Homo sapiens: one gene and its partner. The protein of the gene in region 1 purifies or fractionates together with the protein of each later gene. This does not show direct contact. Each region holds a gene or a part of one and is shown on either strand. Other genes may lie near its edges.

Evidence for each region.
Region 2: the proteins of DNAAF11 (region 1) and HSF2 purify together in Homo sapiens (affinity purification with a luminescence readout; one large-scale study listed by IntAct). This does not show direct contact.

What each region holds. Positions count from the first base shown.
Region 1 is NC_000008.11:132,612,916-132,616,738, reverse strand, and holds part of DNAAF11 (dynein axonemal assembly factor 11), read left to right. Parts: intron 1-1,641; coding exon 1,642-1,701; intron 1,702-3,562; exon of another isoform or gene 3,563-3,714; intron 3,715-3,823. UniProt on the Homo sapiens protein: Involved in dynein arm assembly, is important for expression and transporting outer dynein arm (ODA) proteins from the cytoplasm to the cilia. Acts as a crucial component in the formation and motility of spermatozoal flagella.
Region 2 is NC_000006.12:122,402,652-122,406,474, forward strand, and holds part of HSF2 (heat shock factor protein 2), read left to right. Parts: intron 1-3,823. UniProt on the Homo sapiens protein: DNA-binding protein that specifically binds heat shock promoter elements (HSE) and activates transcription. In higher eukaryotes, HSF is unable to bind to the HSE unless the cells are heat shocked.

The DNA of each region.
Region 1 (3,823 bases):
GGCACTGAAAATTTGTTTCTAACAATTAGCTGTTTGACATCACTGGGTGGATATAAGAGAGTCATTGCACACTTATGACGACTAAAAGAGAACCCCTGATTTCCAGCCTCACTAACACTCTCCAGCATCGTGTGCTTGTGTCCCTGTGTTCTCCATCTCAGTAACACACATTCACCCCTTGGCTAAGACCAGAAACCTTGGATTCTCCCTTAATTCTTCTCTCCCTCATTTTATCAGTGCGTCCTATGAACTCTTCCTTCGATATTATCAGAATCCAGCCACATCTCACTGACCCCACCACCACCACTAGTGGACACTAACTCTTGCTTGGACAGTTGCAATTGCTTATTAAGCAGTCTCCATGGTTTATCTGTTGGCCTCCTACATTCTGTTCTACTCAGCTAAATAAAGAAGAAAAAAGGGAAGAAAGGATACACGCTCCTTTTCTTAAGGGACATTCTTAGAAAGTGCCATACAACGACTGTCCCTCACATGACCTCACCCACCTGCAAGGGAGGCCAGAGAATGCAACCTTTATTGTACATAGCCATGCCCCTAGTTAAAACCATGGTTCCTGTCACTAGGAATAAAGGGGAAGCAGATAGCAACTAAATAGCAATCTCTGCCATAGGAAAATTCTCTGAAATTACTTTACAAGTAATAAGCAATCGAGGCAGAGCAGGAGCATATAAAAAGGCTCCTGAGATGAGGTTCTACAAATGCATGGGTCATTTGAGACACTGAAGAAGTCCCACAGGCCTGACTATTGAAAGCAATGAGACAGTGCCTGCCACAAGCAGAAATGGGGCGAACAGCCAAATCTATCGCTAACTTCACATTTTCCTAAACAGTTTAGCTTATGTTCTTTAATATTGTTGAGTTGTATGTTTTATAGAGTAATACAGTAACTGAAATGTTCAAAAGAAAATTGACCAGGCAATTCTGATAGTATGTTGTTCAGTGTGGAAGCTAGACCTAGGACTCAACCTCGGGGTACAGTTGAAAGATGGTGGAGCTTTGAAATCCTGCCTAGCCAGGCTCGTGCAGAGAAAGTGTAAAGGCATTTATTATAATTCAGCTATGCCAACCTCTTTGAACCTCTGTTTCTTCATCTATAAAACAGAGGTAATAGATAATGAGCAGTGTCTCAGCCTTTTTCAGGGCAATGGAAAGGTCAGCGATGAAAGGAGAAGAAAAAAGATAGCAAGAAAAAAGAAGGAAGACAGGACTCTAAAACTTAAGGAATAGAATGCAGGATAAAGGGGAGGCAAAAGCAACCTTTAGTTCTCCATAAATAATTCCAATGTTTTAGTTTGCTTCTGGCAAACTCATATGAGATGGAAAAGAAAACTTTAGCCACCAGATGTCTCTATCTCTGCACTAAAGCTAATTTTTTGTGTGTAATTTACCTTAAGATTCTCACATTTAAACACTGTAAACACAAATAATTTATTAATATGTTGTAGGTTTTGCTGAAATGTTAAAATTACCGTTGATATTTGATTGTTCAACCACTAAAATAAGTTGTCTTTGGATATTATTATAGAATTATTATCTAATCTGCTTATGAATTTATGATGGGGTTTTCTATACAGTATCCTAAAGACATCTCTTTTTTCCCACCAAATGTGTTATTCTTAGAATTGACTTCTCTTTGAAAGATAACGAAAAGCAGATCATCCTGGACCTTGCTGTCTATAGGTAAAGACATTTTCTACGTATTTATTTATGACATTTCTGTCTGTTTTCATTCTCAGTAGTAATTTTTTAGTTTGAAAAAATTGAAATGGAATTGACTTAGACCTATAGTTAAATGAAGCTTATTTGTTAAGACAGAGAAGTTACTATAATTTTTAAAAGCATGAAAATGAAAGGAAAGGTAAATAAAGCCACAATTTCATGGATATGAACTCAGGAATATCTAAGGCAGAGTTTAAATAATTCTCAGACCTGTGCTGTTTTCTGATGCTGATACTACAAGGACCCCACTCTGTCTTTGCTGGCATAGTCCTCTGTTTTTGTCTAAAATGCCTTCCTATAGTAGTAGGTATCAGGTGATCGGCTCCCCTCCCTCAGTCCCATCTCAGAGGCCTGGGGGAACACCTAGCAGCCCCTGTCACCAGTGGACCCTTCTTCCCTGCTGCCCTCTCACATCCTGCCTGTTTTCTCACCCATGGGTAGGAGTGGCACAGACCTCCTGCCTGCCCTCATCACCACACCCAAACTATTGTCCTTTTCTCCTCCCTAAAGCTCCATGGCTTTGACACTCAAACCTTCAGCCTGTATCCCCTTCTTCTCTTCTTTGTGGAAGCATCTAAAGGCAGCAGGTCACTCTGCCTCATTCCCTGAAGATTTTAGGCCCTGGTTCACTGTGCCGATACATCCTTCTGATGACCTCAGTGTCCCCTGGCACCATCTCAGAGGCTGCTTGCCTGTGCTTCCCTCTGCCTGTATCACCCTCGGTGTCCTTGTGGCTTGCTGCCTCGTGTCCTTCAGGCCTCTGCTCAGATGTCACCTCATTAGAGGGGCCTCTCTGCCCCACCATCTGACATAAAGCAGTACCTACCCCTGCCCAGCACTTCCTTCCACTCTTTCTACTTTTTGACTTCCTGCTGACAAAGTGTAAATTTACTTGTATTCTTAAAAGTTTGTGGTCAGAGCAGGAAGCTTGTTTTGTTTGTTCTTTCCTCTCTACATCTCCACACCTAAAACAATACCTGGCACCTGTTAGGTGCTCAATAAACACAAGAATGAATGAATGAATGAATGAACAAATACTGATGATGGGAGTATGACATTGACATGCATGAATGAATGGATGAATGTTTACATGCATGAATTATAATAAATGCCTTTCTCTTTTTAATGGCTTTTGATGTGCCCCATTTTATTTAATCTCTCAGTAACCCTGGGAGGTTGGAGGGATTATTACCCAAGAGGGGGTAACTTTTCCAAGAGTGAGTCTTGTCAAAGTGAACAGGGACCGAAGGAGCCAGAACATCAGCCCTCAGGACTTCAACCAACTTTGCTGTTTTGATTGTGGTAAAATACACATAACTTAAAATCGACCATTTCAACCATTTCAAAATGGACAACACCATGGCATTTAATAAATTCACAATATTGTACAACCATTACCATTGTCTAGTTCCAGAAAATGTTTATCACCCCAGAAGGAAACCCCATGGTCCTTAAGCAGTCACTGCCCATTCTCTGTCTTCATGGCAACCACTAATCTGTTTTCTGTCTCTATAGATTTGCCTATTTGGGATATTTCATATTAATAGAATCATACAACATGTGGCCTTTGTGTCTGGCTTCTTTCACTTACCATAATGTCTTCAAGCCTCATCCATGTTGTTGCACGTGTCAGAATTTCCTTCCTTTTTATGGCCAAATACTATTCCATTGCATAGATGTACCACATTTTGTTTATCCGTTCACCAGATGGTAGGCATTTGGGTTGTTTCCACCTTGGCTCTTGTGTACCAGGGCTAGCCTTAGTGTGGTCCCTTCCTCTCCACACCAAGCTGTCTCAGATCAGCTGTGTGCCTCTCCACAGAATTCCTGTCAATTCTTCTGCCTGCTTGCTGCCAGGTTATCTGCCTTTACAAAGATCCCAGCTCTTCTCCAGCTAGCTTCATATCCTCTGCTCCTCCAGCTTCCCAAGCTGCCGTTTCTACTGTTTTTCAGACAAATCACTGTTTCATCCTTGTAAGTCCTTTCCATTTTTAGGCCCTATGTCTGGTGTTTAATGAATGTATAACCCTTTCTTTTTCAGCTCTGTTGGCTGCTTCCTGTTCAGTCCTCAAATGGAAACATT
Region 2 (3,823 bases), on another chromosome or scaffold:
AAACGATTCTTCTGCCTCAGCGTCTCGAGTAGTTGTGATTACAGATGCGCACCACCATGCCTGGCTAATTTTTGTATTTTTAGTAGAGACAGTGTTTCACCATGTTGGCCAGGCAGTCTCAAACTCCTGACCTCAAGTGATCCACCCGTCTCGGCCTCCCAAAGTGTTGAGATTACAGGTGTGAGCCACCGGCGCCCAGGTACTCTCATCTTTTGAAAGTTGCTATTTATGGTGGTTTCTGGTTTCCTTCAAACTTGTGTTGTATTTCTGTTGAGGTAATTTAGCATTTATACTATGAAAATCATTGAGAACTTTTAGAAGAAGCAGTTGTTTTGGGAACCAGACAAGCTTTTGTGCAGTTTTTTTTTTCAATGGTGGAAAATAATTTATTTCTCTACCTTGAGTGTAAGGCAAGGGAAAAAAAACTCTTACCAATTGCGTTTTGGAAAACGCAGTTGGTAATATCTCTAGATAATATCTCTGGAGACGTACATAACTTTAATTTTCCTCGAAATTTGCAATATGACAAAATTGAAAAGGGAAATAATACCTCTCACCATTAAATACAAGAATATAATAATCTGAACAATTGAAATTATACTTAAATATGTTATTGACTCTAAAATAATAGAAATGCCTTAATTCCAGACAGTCTTTAAGAAAGCATAATGTGGCTAGGCGTGGTGGCTCATGCCTGTAATCCCAGCACTTTGGGAGGCCAAGATGGGCAGGTTGCTTGAGCCCAGGAGTTTGAGACCAGCCTGGGCAACATGGTGAAACCCTGTCTCTACAAAAAAATACAGAAAGTAGCCAGGTATGGTGGCGTGCATCTTTAGTCCCAGCTACTCAGGAGGCTGAAGAGGGGAGATGGCTTGAGCCCATGAGGCAGAGGTTGCAATGAGCTGAGATCACACTACTGCAAGCCAGCCTGAACAACAGAACGAAATCCTGTCTCAAAACAACAACAACAAAAAACAGAAAGAAAAGAAAGTATGTTTTACATATTTCCATTTTCTCCTTACTCTTCTGAAAAACAAAAATGAAAAGTTTTCATTTTTTTTAACATTTCCTTTAAATGTAAAATTTTATATAACTGTTCTTGGCTTTGGTAGTCTGTTGTCAGAATCAAGTACAGAGATTGTACTGTCAGACGACCTAAAACTGTTTTAAATCTTAAGTGTCCTAAAGAGAGGGCACATATTAGCTTGGAAGCAACTGGTGAAACTTGATATTCAGAGACAAGGCCGTAGAGGTTAAATGAAGTTATATAGTAAAAAACAGCCTTTACGAGTTAATGAAATGTTACAACCAACGTATGCTGAAGTGAAGCAGTATAAAAGAAGGAAAGAACTGGAAGGTCATCCTTTTGTCAGTGTTGTTACCTTTGTCTCTGTTCTTCAGATTGTTTGAGAAAATGAAGTGATTTCCACCAAAGACTTCATACCCAGCTTTCCCCCCTTTTTGTGCCCTTTGGCATTCTCTGCTTCTCTATCCCCCTCATGTCAGCAGAGATGAATTAGGAAATAGGTAGGAGGGAGAGAGAGCAAAAACAGAATTTTTCCATTGTTTTCTAGCTGTTTTGGATGAATTTGAGCAGTAGGCCCTTGGACTTCACAAAGTGCTAGTATTGTTTTGAACATCCCAGCAACCATTGCATTATATTAGTATTTCAAAGTGAAAATAAGAAAGACTACAAGTGTGGGAGGATGGGGGTAAAATCCAACTTAGATGGACCTGCAGAAAAGTTGAAAGATTGATTTTCAAGTATTTTTATTTGTATATATAAGAGAAAGAATGAGCTAAAGACTCTAAAAGAGTAGCTGGTGCATATTAAAAATTATAGATTAGCAAGCCACAAATTTCTGTTCCGAAAAATGTTTTAAAGTAATGTGGCTGAAGTATTAGATTATTAGGAATATTTTGAGTGTTCTAACAAGAGTGCCAAAATTAATTTGGAGAGTAACGACTGTTTCTACTCTTTGGACTCTTGCCAACATTTGTGGGTAAGGTTTAAGGAGAAGGTGCCTATCTTTCCCACCTCACTCAGTAGTAGTTTTCTCATCCTTGTAAAATACTTAGGGAGATTCTGTGTTGTATTGCTTGAACCTCACAGGTTTAAAAGACAGGAAGGTGAATTTTTGCACTCAAAGAAGTTATTTACTAATTTTAGAATAGAGACTGAGGGAATACAATAAGCAGAGATAGAGTGATATGAATGAATAAGGAGTGTATGTGAGAGAGAGTGAGCACAGGTATAGCAAGAGATTATTGTCATCTCCCTATTTTATATAATCAAATAGTTGAAATTCTAAAAATTCAGTTTATTTGGCCAAAGATTAATTTAGTCAGTCACAGGTATTTGTTATGAATCTGTTATGACCTAATATTGTGCTAGGTATCAGGAATTCATTCAGTAGTGAACCAAAGTGCCTACCTTTATGGAGCTTACATTGAGTGGTGGATATCAATAAATAGTAAGCAAATACAAGCTGGGTATGGTGGTGCATGTCGTAGTTCTGGGTACTGGGGAGGCTGAGTTGGGAGGATTGCTTGAGCCCAGGAGTTTGAGGCTAGCTTGGGCAACATACTGAGACCCCTGTCTCTTAAAAAAAAAAAAAAAAAAAGTAAAAGCAAGCAAAACACAATCAATATAATTTCAGTTAGTGATAAATGCCTTTAAAAAACACCAAGATAAACTGTGTGTCGGTTAAGATGCAATCATAAGTCAGAAGCCACAGGTATTTTCAAGAGGGTAAGTTTAATAGAGTTACTGACTATATCAGGGAAATTAAAGAAAATTAAAAGAATACAAGAATAGTTTTAAGAAGCAGCCACTACTGATAGGGCTGAGATAGAGTGCCCAAGTAAGAACCTTTTTTGCCAAGGCTAAGATTCTTACCTTATTGGAAGGAATATGGCCATGACTCAGTAGCAGAGCAGTCACTGGTGTTGCTCTGGTGGAACTTACTGGAAATGCATCCTTCAAAACTTGGTGGGAAATATGCCCTCTAGGTCACGGGTTGGCAAACTGTAGTCCTTTTGCCAGCTGTTTTATAAAAAAAAGTTTAAATAGAACACAGCTATGCCCAATCTATTTACATATTGTCTGTATCTGCTTTCTCACTACAAAGGTAGAGTTATGATGTTATAATCTGCAAGCCTAATTTACTATTTGTCCCTTTAAGAAAAAGTTTATAAATCCCTGTTCTGGAGTACTCTAAAAAACTGTTTATGGGGAGATATCTTGTTAGAGATACTCTGCTTTGAAACCTCCCAAGGGAGAGGAAGCACCAGTGAAAGCTGATGGTCTTTGAGTGTTGCTGACCACCATTAATATCAAGAGCTAGGCACTGGAGAAGCTGCCTCCACTGCAGAAGCTTGCCAAGGATACATGAGTCAGGAACAAGAGCTCCTTTTTCTTGTAATATCTCTCTTTTATCCCCTGCTGACAGAACTTAACATCATGGCACCTAGAAAAAGAAAGATATTTATTTAAGGAACCAAGCTCTATGCTTGTAGAGCAGACAATGAAGAATGAATTTGGAGCAATAAATTGATAACTGGCCCATAAACAGACTAGGATTTGTGAATATTTTAGGTAAGGTGATGAGGAAAGCCTCTCCAAGGAGACGATGTTTGAGGAGAGATCTAAATGATTAGAAAAGATGGGCCAAAGGGGAATGACAAAAGGTAAGGCCTTGAATGTGGCTGTTCAAGGAAGCAGGAAGGCCCATGTGATTAGAATATCTTTAGGGAATTAGGAGAGTGAGAGTAGGGAGGTAGGCAGGAGCAGATGGTATAGGGCCCTAGATCTATAGTAAGA